3 linked regions of the Homo sapiens genome follow. The protein of the gene in region 3 purifies or fractionates together with the protein of the main gene of each other region. This does not show direct contact. Each region holds a gene or a part of one and is shown on either strand. Other genes may lie near its edges.

Region 1 (4,306 bases), on a different chromosome or scaffold from region 3:
TGACAAATGGGATCTAATTAAACTAAAGAGCTTCTGCACAGCAAAAGAAACTACCATCAGAGTGAACAGGCAACCTACAGAATGGGAGAAATTTTTTGCAATCTACCCATCTGACAAAGGGCTAATATCCAGAATCTACAAAGAACTTAAACAAATTTACAAGAAAAAAACAACCCCATCAAAAAGTGGGCAAAGGATATGAACAGACACTTCTGAAAAGAAGACATTTATGCAGCCAACAGACACGTGAAAAAATGCTCATCATCGCTGGCCATCAGAGAAATGCAAATCAAAACCACAGTGAGACACTATCTCACACCAGTTAGAATGGCGATCATTGAAAAGTCAGGAAACAACGTGCTGGAGAGGATGTGGAGAAATAGGAACACTTTTACACTGTTGGTGGGACTGTAAACTAGTTCAACCATTGTGGAAGACAGTGTGGCAATTCCTCAGGGATCTAGAACTAGAAACACCATTTGACCCAACCATCCCATTACTGGGTATATACCCAAAGGATTATAATCATGCTGCTATAAAGACACATGCACACATACGTTTATTGTGGCACTATTCACAATAGCAAAGACTTGGAACCAACCCGAATGTCCATCAGTGATAGACTGGACAAAGAAAATGTGGCACATATACACCATGGAATACTATGCAGCCATAAAAATTATGAGTTCATGTCCTTTGTGGGGACATGGATGCAGCTGGCAACCATCATTCTGAGCAAACTGTTGCAAGGACGGAAAACCAAACACTGCATGTTCTCACTCATAGGTGGGAATTGAACAATGAGAACACCTGGACCCAGGGTGGGGAACACCACACACCGGGGCCTGTTGTGGGGTGGGGGCCTGGGGGAGGGATAGCATTAGGAGATATACCTAATGTAAATGACGACTTAATGAGTGCAGCACACCAACATGGCAAATGCATGCATATGTAACAAACCTGCACGTTGTGCACATGTACCCTAGAACTTAAAGTATAATCAAAAACATAAAAAAAAAATTAAGTGTATTTTTACAGAGGTTGCTTAGGAGCCTTATTTAGTGATTCCCACAGAAAGAATTTGTTCCTGAAGCATTCATGAAAATACAATAAAGATTATTATGTAAAGCAAGAGTCAGCAAACTTTTTCCATAAAGGGCAAGATAGTATGTATATATTTTAGGCTTTTCATACCACACAGTGTCTTGCAACTATTCAGCTCCGCTACTCAAGAGTAGCTATATATAATACATGAATGAGTGGGTGTGGCTATGTTCTAATAAAACTTTACTTAAAAAAACAAGTAGCAGGCTAGATTTGGACTATGGGTCAGAGTTTACTGGCTTTTTGTTTTAAAGAATATAAGCATTGTTTCTTGTGAAAGCTTTACTTCAGTTTTTATTTAATTGCCACTTGGAAAATTTGAATTCAAGTACTTTTATTCCATTATTTATTCAAAAGATATTGAATGCCGTCTAGTTGCCTGTGCTCACTCCAGGTGCTAAGGATGATGGTGGTGGACATGATGGATAAAATCTTGCCTTTAAGGAGCTTACATTTTAGTGGAAGTCTGAAGTTTGTGAAATTAAATGTATATTTTAGATGAGTTAAAGAGGTTAAAGAAATTGTCATTTTAAATTATTTCAGAAATTGGATTTTTGCCTCGTCGGTATTTAACATGGCAGAACTTTTAGAGTGCTCACTGGTAGAATGCATTTAAGGTAATTTTTCAGGGGCCTGCAGTTCACCAGTTTGCTCTCCACACGGCTTGCTTATTCTCATCCTTTAGATTTTCAGCCCAAATGTTAACACCTTATTGAAGCTTTGTCTTCTCTGATCAGCCTATTTGAAATGGCCTCCAACAGTTACTTCTTGTTTTAATCATCATCTTTCCTTAAAAGTATATATATATTTGCAGTCAACCCTCTGCATCTGTGGGTTCCAAATCCATGGATTCAACCACACAGATTGAAAATATTCAGAAAAAGAAATTGTGTCTGTACTTATGTACACATATTTTTTTCTTGTCATTATTCTCTGAACAATACAGACATTAGTGTAATAGCTATTTACATTGTATTAAGTTTTATAAGTAATTTAGAGATGACTTAAAGTGTTTGGGATGAGCCAGTTGCGGTGGCTCACCCCTGTAATCCCAGCACTTTGGGAGGCTGAGGCGGGCAGATCAGTTGAGGTCAGGAGTTCGAGACCAGCCTGACCAACATGGCAAAACCCCATCTCTACTAAAAATACAAAAATTAGCCGGTTGTTGTGGCGGGGGCCTATAATCCCAGCTACTCGGGAGGCTGAGGCAGGAGAATCACTGGAACCCAGGAGGCGGAGGTTGCATTGAGCCAAGATGGCACCACTGCACTCCAGCCTTGGCGACAGAGTGAGACTCTGTCTCAAAAAGTAAATAAAGTGTATGGGATGTCGTACTCAGGTATATGCAAATACTATGCCATTTTTCATCAGGGACTTGAGCATCCATGGATTTTGGTATCCAGAAGGTCCTGGAACCAATCCCATCCCCTTTGGATACCGAGGGATGACTGTATTACAGTCTCTAATTATCTTGTTTACTAGTTATGCTCTTTCATTAGAATGTAAACTCCATAAATTCAGGGACCTTCTCTGTTCTATTCATTGTATCTCCAGCTTGAGCACAGTGTCTGACACATGGTAGTCATTGAATAAATGTTCCAGAGATTGTCTAGTTGCAGAAGATACCAAGTTGTTAACAAGCTACCCTGTACTCAGGAAGCCACATTTTAGTGGAGCAGACAATAAATAAACAACTAGATGTTCTGTATAATTTCAGGTAGTAATGAATTCGGTGGCCAAAAATGAAGCAGGATAAAGGGATAGATATGAAGGGGGCTATTGCCCAGCTACTTTAGCTGGAATGGCCAAGATCTTTCTTGAGGAGGTGACATTTAGTCAGAAATCCACATGAAAGTGAAGGAGTCACAAAATATAGATACCTTAGAAGAATGTATTCCTGGCAGTGAGAAGAGCAAGAGGAAATCCTTAAGAAGGTACATGTTTGAGAAACCGTTATTTCTGGAGCTTGGTGAGGAGGAGCAAAGTAGAAGCATATGACCTTAAAAATAGAGCTCAGTGCCAGATCATGCAGGACCTTGAATAATCTGGTAGATGGACAGTTTGAGAACACTACAACTCCAGAATAAAAAAGCAGTTTTAGACTTGTAGTTTTAAGACAATGCGTGCTCATGTTAAAGCTAAAACTGAGGCTGTGTGGCACTGATTTACATTAGCACTCAGTTCAGATTGGGTGTAATACAATTCTTAGATAAAGCACAGACCATGTGTCTCCACTGAAAGCAAAGCATTCAGTGCCAATCCGGACAGCTAGTGTTTCACTCAAACTAGTTAATCTCTGTTCTTTTTGCTTTCGTTGTTGTCCTCTTTTGGGATATGTGTATCCAAAAGCATGGTGACTACAATAGCATTGTGCTATTGCATGCAAGAGAAACAGCATTGTTAAAATTGTTTATGTAATTTCCATGCTGTTTGCATAAAAATGGTTTCATGAAGTGTTTGTTTGGCACCCGCTCTGTGAAGAGCATTGTCCTCGGTGGTGTGATGTACAATATAAACAGAATATAAACAGAAATCACGGGCACTCAGTAAATATTTGTTGAATAAATGAACTATACAGTTTGTTTTATCCTTATAGTAGATTCAGTTTTTTATACAGAGAAAAAGATGGTTTTTTGTTTTTGTTTTCTGCCAGGTGGAACACCTACATAATTTCATTTTGTTTCGGTTTTCAATGGGCTTCATTGATAGTATTATTGCCAAATGTAAGTATATTTTGAAAGAGATGAGATTTGTGGAAAAGGTGAAATACTGTTACTGTTTTAAATCTTACCTGTTTGGTTTCAGACCTTGCCACTGTTGTTGGTTACCTAGTTGTCAGTCGCCCTTTCTTAGATTTGTCTCATCCTCGACATCTCAAGAGTACACATTCGGAACTTCTAGAGGTAAACTGATGATAATACAATGAAAATGTAACAGTAAAAATAAAGCCAAATTTTTAGTCATAGAACTATAAGTAAAAACTAATATTTATTTCTATTTAAGGATTACTACCAAAGTGGAAGAATGCTTTTGCGAATGTCTCAAGCTCTGGGTCGAATAGTTTTGGCTGGGCGTGAAATGACTAGATTGGCCGGGTAAGATTAGTAATAATGAGCTGTTGCAGAAAATAATTTTTAAAAATATATTATCCTTAATGATTGTATCAGTTGAGATTAAGATAAGGGGTCAACATTTCCTAGCC
Region 2 (4,306 bases), on a different chromosome or scaffold from region 3:
TTTCTTTTATCTAAAATTCTCTATTTTTAACAAGTACTATCATGCTTATAACAATAACAAAACAAAAGTCCAAAATTAGTCTTTCCCCAGGTCACATTACAAATTAGTTGTGATGGTGCCAATCAACTATCTCTGAAAAGAGGTTAAACTTTTATCTCAGTACCCACCCCCTTACTGAACCAAAAGCTGTCATCTATTTCAGATTTATAATAAACATATGAATCTGATCTTAGCCCTTGCTTTCAAAGACTGGGACATTACTCATTACCTTCAGAATAGGAAGAATACATTTTCATTTTGCTAGTCACTTTTCTAAAATGCATGTTCAAACCAAGATTTGGTTACAAAAACCTCATTTTTCAGTAGACTGACATAAGTTTAGAGAAGTCTTTCTTAGTATTCTCCAAGTAGCAACAGAACCAAATGTTTCTTCCTAGCCTTTCTGTATTTATTAAAAGACATAATGCAAATAATCACTTTCTAATTATTATTATTATTTTTGAGATAGGGTCTCACTCTGTCGCCCAGGCTGAACTGCAGTGGCACAAACACAGTTCCCTGTAGCCTCGAACTCCCTGGACTCAGGTGATCCTCCCACCTCAGTCTCCCGAGCAGCTGGGACCACAGTTGCATGTCACCATGCCCGGTTAATTTTTGTATATTTTTGTAGAGACGGGGTTTTGCCATGATCTGCCCATCTCAGTTTCTCAAAGTGCTAGAATTATAGGTTTGAGCCACCTGGCCCTCTAATTATTACTTTTTGCTTTTTGCTTTGTTTCATAATTTGGATTTTTATGTATAAAAATTTTCTTGGTCTTATATTTTTAATTACTCTAGGGAAAAAACTTTTTTGGCAACTGGATGAGATATTCATTATAAATGAATCACTAAAGTTCATTAAATACCTAAATGAGAAGGCAAAGGTTTACTCAGTAATAAATTTTAAAAGTATTCCAGTCTTTTTCATGTAGAGACTATTTAAGTATTTAAGAACACAGATCTTAAAAAAAGTAAAATTCTAAGAAATTACTCAATTAACAATGATCTTTCTTCAACCAACCTGCTCCCCACCCCAGATGTTTCTCACTTAAGAAATAGACAAGTTACACAAGAACAACTGGAAAACAGAAATTTTAAATATTTTGAAGCTGTTAACCAGGATATGGTTACTATTTTAAGATCAAATCTTAGAAAATTTCTGGACAAAAAATATAAAACCACACACCTGTAACATGATGAATGATGGAGACGACCAGATGGGGAAGCATGTAATGCAGAAGAGGACTGACATCGTAAGTTTCAGAAATCCCATGAAGTATTGTAATAAGATCAGGAACATTACATAAGTGAGGGAATGGCCTTTGAAGAAGCAAAAGTACATATCGTGTTGACTTTACAAGTTAGACAATGAGTAACAATATAAGAAAATATATAATCACTTATCTTACAAAAAAAAATTATTCAAAATAATTTTATTCACCTCTGACTAGCACCATTTCTCAATTCAATTGTACATACTTTTTCCCAAGGCTCTCTGGCTTCTGTCTCTGCAGGAGCACTATCAAGCAACTTAACCCATCCTTGATCAAAGAGGGAATCTTGGTCAATGTTTTGATGATCTGTGATGCCAATGAATTCACAAAGGTATTTTCCATGGTCACTTTCACAGAAATCTGACATATTATCATGTATGTTGCAGCTCTGTAATCTGGTAAAGATGATTTCAATCCCTAAATATTTTTTAAATATAAGGAAAAATGATAAACCATATTATTTTCTGCTACTTTAAATGTTAATCTGACAAATTAGAAATGTCATAGAGATTAATACAACCTAATGCATAGTCAATCACTCTTCAGACATAAACAATAAAGGAGCTGACCCCTTTTTCAGAGTGGATACAGAGATGAGACAAGTCTGTTGAACGAGACAAAGGATCTCAGAAAATTTCCCAACTCAAACATCTACCACATGTCCTGACAGGAGCCAGTAAGCTCTTCTTTTATACATAAAATCCTACTTATAGTAGGGAGACCTCAATCAGATCACTAATGGAAGAAACAAGTCTGATGAAAGGTCACAAGTTGGGACACTGGTGGGAAGTGAAAGCAGTACCTCCACAGGGCACCTGGGAAGGCAGCAGGCAAGAAGGCACTTGGGAAGGAGAAACGCTGAGAGGCAGGAGCCAGTGCACAAAGAATACTGAGAGGTTGCTTACGCCTCAAAGAGACTGTCTGCTCCGTCCTCCTTCCAGTGAGGTACAAAGACTGCTATGGAAATCAATCTAGGAGATGGCCGCAGGACCAGACAGCCAATATTTATTCTTAAGAGTCCTAATTAAGGTCCCAGGCCAGTGAGTTTCTAATAAAAAAGTGTCATATTTTCAACCTAAAGGCTAAATCTCAGCTATCATCTGAAATAAACTGTCAATTTAAAAACACTTAAATCTAAAAAAACTTTCGAAAGCAAGAAAATTCCTTTAAGTACAAAATAATCTACTTAACACATCAGCAGTGCCAACCTTTTGGATATAGGGAAATAGTTTGGCGATGATATTGTCTGATACGTCCTCTGCAGCTACCAGCGCCGACACTATGGTAGAAGCATAGAAAGCCAAGAGCACCCTCAACTGAGCTGAGCTGCCCGGGTACTCAGCAAAAACCTGAAACAAGGAACACAAACAAAACACATTTAACAGTGAAAGGGAGGTAGAAGGATTGCTTGAGGCCAGGAGTTCAAGGCTGAGATTTCAATGAACTATGATGGCACCACTGTACTCTAGCCTGGGCGACAAAGCAAGTCCATGTCTCCAAAAAAAAAAAAAGTGAAAGGCCAAATAAATATTTACAGCTCTCCTGAATTACCATATGCAACAATGAATACACAATGTGACAACAATTAACTGCCTAATGATATTCCTAACATTTTTATTTAAAAAAAAATTTTTTTTTTTTTTTTTTGAGATGGAGTCTCTGTCGCCCAGGTTGCAGTACAGTGGCATGATCTTGGGTCACTGCAACCTCCGCCTCCCAGGTTCAAGCGATTTTCCTGCCTCAGCCTCCCGAGCAGCTGGAATTACAGGCATGCCCCACCATGCCCAGTTTATTTTCGTATTTTTAGTAGAGACGGTGTTTCACCATGTTGGCCAGGCTGGTCTCAAACTCCTGACTTCAAGTGATCCGCCTGCCTTGGCCTCCCAAAGTGTTGGGATTACAGGCGTGAGCCACCGCACCTGGCCTTAAAATTTTTTAAACAGCTTTCCCAGGTTGAATATTCCCGACATTTCTAGACACTCTCTTTGAATAGTCACTGTAACTAGAATCTGGCAAGGAATAGACATTTATTTTTGTAGAAAAACACCTTTGGTGATAAAAGACTGATTCTTAAAAAAAAAAAAAAAGATACGGACTCTCAAACTGCTCCTGCTTCAAAACACCAGACCATTTAACAAAATAAATTTATCCAAAGTATCATTGTTATTAGGGAATGTTTTAGTATGTTTTCTTCATTCAAAGCAAGCAATCTTTTCATAAAATTATATACTCATGAAACAGACTGCTCACCTTCACAGATTTTGTCACCAAACTGCAAATGAAATCCATGAATCCAAGATCTTTGTAGCAGTGGGTAATCAAAGTTCCTTTAGCTAACGGCACTCCAGATTGCTGTTATTGATGGAAAGAACAAACTACTAGCAACATTCATCAACTGATCCTTATTTTAAAGCATTTACCCTAGTAATGTCTTCATACTGCTACAATTCATAAATAAAAAATATAATCTCTCCTTATAACTGGTGGTGGTGATGAAATTAACACATAAAATCATGTAAACTTAGAAATTCAAAAGAGAAGGTCAGCAATGAGGGCAGAGGTATTTAGTGAAAGATGTTTGCTTATCGTATGTCACATTTTGAAAGGTATTTATCAAAATCTGGATTCTCTAGATTCTTAGTAACTTTACTGGTTCGATTTGGTTTCTGAGCCACTATGATACGCTTCTGTCATTGCTTTACAATAACACTAAGAACAGAAATAGACTAGGAAACTGCACAACTTATACCACTATTCCCACCATCTAGCGTTGTACATGGTATGTAATAGATGCTCCATAAATACTGATTAAATAAATGAAAGGAGAATTTTAAGTGAACTTTAGTAGGTGAGTGGAGTTTGGCTACCTGCAATAAGAGTGCCTAGGGAGCAGCAAGATCCAAGGTAGATTAGAGGAAGAATAATTTTGATGCTATGGGCAGAGTGAATGTTGGGAAGAGCAGTTAATGAGCTTTATCAAAGGCTGGCCTTCT
Region 3 (4,306 bases):
TCTTATCCTAAAAATAACATTTTTTCCAATTAAATAAAAAATGTAATCTGTAAATGCCAAACATATAAAAAGAATTATACCATACATGTAAAAAGAATGGTATAATTTATCCTCTGCAGTTAACACTTTTTACATTTGGGGTGTGCCAAGCAACTGAGGTTCTCAATTTCTTTGCAAATCAGGCAAAAACAAACTAAATTATTATAGAAACAATTCATTTATTTGGGTCAAATATCTGATGTAGTAGACATCCACTACTGTTTTGGCTGTTCAGCATCTTTGCTATTAAGGAGTTGTCTCTTCTTCCACTTCTGACAATCATGTAGACTATGTCTCCTATCATACTAGGGTTTTCTCATCTGCATGAGAGTCTCAACTAATACATACATCTTGGAATATCTTGTCTAGAACACAGTTGAGCATCTAGAAACCAGCAAACACCACCCCCAAAGCACCCCAGACATCCTAATGTCCTGCATTAATTCTCAGGCCTTGCCCACAGCAGCAAATTCAGGGAAGAGGGAACAGGGGATAATGACAACAGCAAGTAACAGAAGGAAAGAGAAATTCTGAAGGCTTCCATCATTAACAATCCAGTACTCTTTGGAAACAGTGTGGCAATTCCTTAAGATGTTAGTGGTAAGTTTACCGTAGGACCTGATAATTCCACCCCCAAGAATTTACCCAAGAGGAGTGAAAACGTATGTCTACACAAAGACTTTTTTTTTTTTTGAGACGGAGTTTTGCTCTGTCACCCAGGCTGGAGTGCAGTGGTACGATCTCGGCTCACTACAACCTCCGCCTCCAGGGTTCAAGCGATTCTCCTGCCTCAATCTCCCGAGTAGCTAGGATTACAGGGGCACGCCACCATGCCCAGCTAAATTTTATATTTTTAGTAGAGACAGGCCATGTTGACCAGGCTGGTCTCGAACTCCTGACCTCAGGTGATCCACCCGCCTCGGCCTCCCAAAGTGCTGGGATTATAGGCGTGAGCCACCGCGCCCAGCCTACACTAAGACTTACATGCAAATGTTCATAGCAGCATTATCCATAAAAGCACCAAACTGGAAACAAATCAAATGTACAACAGCTGGTAAATGGAGTTGACAAAATGTAGTATATTCATATAATGGAATATGGTTTGGCAATAAAATGAAATACTGATGTAAGTGAAAGAAGGCAGAAGCAGAAAGACTACACATTGTATGATTCCACTTGTATGTCCTGAAAATAGAAATTTATAGAGCTAGAAAGCAGATCAGTGGCTGCCTAGGGCTGGGGTGGGAGCAGGGATATTTGGGGTGATGAAATGTTCTAACAATGGATTGTGGTAATGACTGCACAACTCTATAAATTTACTGATAATTACTGAATTGTTCACCTACAAAGGGTGAATGTTATGATATACAAATCATATCTCAATAAACTATTTAAAAACATAGTCAACTTATTTGGGACCACATGGCCTTACAAGCTTCTGTGAGCATGCCTTTTATTTTTGGCAACTACTACTACTAATAATAAAGATCCTGGGTTGTCAAGAATTGATTTAAGGCTATACCTTTAACTGGATATCCACTGTACAAATCCATCAATTAATTTTACTGGAAAAACAAAATTCAAAGAGTAAGCCTTATCACTGTTGGTAGATCATAGGTCATACTATTATTTTTCTACCAATGGACAGCATTATTTCAAATCTGCAAAAAAGGAAAATATAAAATCCTTAAAAGGATCAGTATGTATTTATATTTCTGCCATATGGGTGATATGTAAAGTTCTATGGCTTTCCCTAAGGCCCCGAAAGACAGAAATAAAATTATTTAAACATTACTTGTGTCCAATTTTCAGGACCTTAGACATAGGTACTATGAAGTGAGATTTAGAGACTAAGTAACTTGCCCAAGGTCCTTAAGAGCCAGAATTTGAACCTAGGAAGTCTGACTGCTTTTAATGCCTAAAATCTTTAAACGTTACTCTTTGTCTATGGGTTCTAGTCTAAAAGAATGTTAAAAGAATATACATTCTCAAAGGAGAAGACAGAAAATAATTAGGTAAATCAAAGCTGAGGCCAGAACAGACTTGGTATCAAAAAAACTAGGCCAGAAAAGCAGTCCTCGTTCTGAGCTCTCAATCATGTAGTATAACCTAGGGTTCTTTAGAAAGACCCTTGCTGGCCGGGCACAGTGACTCATACTTGTAATCCCAGCACTTTGGGAGGTCAAGGTGGGCGGTTCACGAGGTCAGGAGATCAAAACCATCCTGGCCAACATGGTGAAACCCCGTCTCTACTAAAAATACAAAAATTAGCTGGGCGTGGTGGCGCTTGCCTGTAATCCCAGTTACTCGGGAGGCTGAGGAAGGAGGATCACTTGAACCAGGGAGTCGGAGGCTACAGTGAGCCGAGATCGCGCCACTGCACTCCAGCCTGGCGACAGAGCAAGACTCCATCTCAAAAATAAATAAAAAAATAAAATAAAAAAGAAAGACCTTTGCCTACTACCCAGAACTGGGAGGTGAGGAGAAAGACGTTAAGAGGCCTGTCATATTGTAGGGAATATCTACATAGAAAACATAACTGCTGCCCCAGAGAAACTTGCACAGGTGTATAGAGGAGATGTATCAACAAACAACCTAAAATCCCAAATACATCTTATACAACATACCAAATATATTCCACCTGAGTTATAAAAATTGTATATTATAATATCTCACTGTACAGAATATCATAATGTATTTAGCTTCCTCCTCCTGTTTTTTCTAACCTTTCTACTACACAAATGTGCTAGGATATACTTTCTTGTACATACATCCATGTATACTTGCCCATTACTTTAAGATAAATTTCTGTGGGTAGAACTGCTTGGTTTAAATATTTGCATTAAAATTTTGTTTTATTTGCTATATTTCCCTTCAAATACACATAATGGGAATATCAGAAAGAGAGGAAAAGAGAAAAGAGCAGAAAAAAACTTCAGAGAAACAATGGCTGAAGCTTCTCCAAATTTATTGAAAAACAACCACCTACACATTCAGAAAAAGCTCAATAAACTTCAAGTAAGATAACACAAAGATATCCACAGACAGACACATCATAGTAAAAATGGCAAAAGTTAAAGATAAGAAAATCTTAAAAGCAGCAAGAGAAAAAAACACTTGTTATTTACAAGGAACCCCAAAAAGATTCTGACTTCTTAACAGAAACAATGGAAGACAGAAGCAGTGTGATAACACATTCAAAGTGCTCAAAGAAAAAGAAAATTTCAGCAAAGAATCCTATACTATCAAAATTATCTTTCGAGAATGAAGGAGAAACAAAGACATTCCCATAAAAACAACAACAACAACAACAACAACAACAAAACAAAGAAAAAAAACAAACAGAGAATTTGTTGGTAGCGGACTTGCCTTACAAGAAATACCATAAGAATTTCTGGCTGAAAGCCAGTGACCACAGACGGTAATCTGAGTTCACATACAAAACCCAAAAAAGCCTAGTAAAAGCAGTGTCAATGAAAAAAATCAGTAAAGAAATTCAAATGCTATAAATTAGAAAATTCTCACTTAATGCAAAAGAAAGCAATAAAGGAGGAATAGAGAAACAAAAGACATATATAACACGACAAAATGGCAGACATAAATCCAACTATATCAATAAATAACGTTAAATGTGATTGGAGTAAACAACCCAATCAAAAGAAATGGACAGCCAGACAGGATCAAAACCAACCAACCAACCAACCAACCAACCAACCAACCAACCAAGATCCAACTATATGCTGTCCACAGGAGACACACTTTAGTTTCACAGATATAAACAGCTTGAAAATAAAGGGATAAACACGTATCATGCAAACAGCAAGCCACAAGAAAGCTAGAGTAGCTATATTAACATCAAACAAAATGGCCTTTCAAAGAAAAAAATGTTACCAAAGAGGGATATTTTATAGTGATAAACAGATTGATCCATCAGGAAGATACAATTACAAACATATGTGCATATAAAAACAGCACAATCTCAATAAATGTAAAAGGATAGAAATAATACATAATACAAAGTGTATTTTCCAGCTGCAATGTAATGAAATTAGAAAAAATTTGTGAAAGTCACAATTATGTGGAAATTAAACAATTCATTCCTAAATAACTAATGGCTCAAAGAAGTCAAAAAGAAATCAGAATTTGAGATTAATGATAGTGAAGACACAATATATCAAAATTTATGAGATGCAGCTAAAGCAATGCTCAGAGGGAAATTTATAGCTGTATCCCTATATTAAGAAAAAGATCTCAAATCAGTAACTTA

The links.
Region 1: the proteins of NET1 (region 3) and ABCD3 purify together in Homo sapiens (affinity purification with mass spectrometry, with the first as the bait; one large-scale study listed by BioGRID). This does not show direct contact.
Region 2: the proteins of NET1 (region 3) and HEATR1 purify together in Homo sapiens (affinity purification with mass spectrometry; one large-scale study listed by BioGRID and IntAct). This does not show direct contact.

The regions. Positions count from the first base shown.
Region 1 is NC_000001.11:94,483,785-94,488,090, forward strand, and holds part of ABCD3 (ATP-binding cassette sub-family D member 3), read left to right. Parts: intron 1-3,757; coding exon 3,758-3,827; intron 3,828-3,909; coding exon 3,910-4,007; intron 4,008-4,107; coding exon 4,108-4,199; intron 4,200-4,306. UniProt on the Homo sapiens protein: Broad substrate specificity ATP-dependent transporter of the ATP-binding cassette (ABC) family that catalyzes the transport of long-chain fatty acids (LCFA)-CoA, dicarboxylic acids-CoA, long-branched-chain fatty acids-CoA and bile acids from the cytosol to the peroxisome lumen for beta-oxydation.
Region 2 is NC_000001.11:236,594,315-236,598,620, forward strand, and holds part of HEATR1 (HEAT repeat-containing protein 1), read right to left. Parts: intron 3,666-4,306; coding exon 3,564-3,665; intron 2,663-3,563; coding exon 2,522-2,662; intron 1,731-2,521; coding exon 1,519-1,730; intron 1,360-1,518; coding exon 1,226-1,359; intron 1-1,225. UniProt on the Homo sapiens protein: Ribosome biogenesis factor; required for recruitment of Myc to nucleoli. Involved in nucleolar processing of pre-18S ribosomal RNA. Required for optimal pre-ribosomal RNA transcription by RNA polymerase I.
Region 3 is NC_000010.11:5,418,763-5,423,068, reverse strand, and holds part of NET1 (neuroepithelial cell-transforming gene 1 protein), read right to left. Parts: intron 1-4,306. UniProt on the Homo sapiens protein: Acts as a guanine nucleotide exchange factor (GEF) for RhoA GTPase. May be involved in activation of the SAPK/JNK pathway Stimulates genotoxic stress-induced RHOB activity in breast cancer cells leading to their cell death.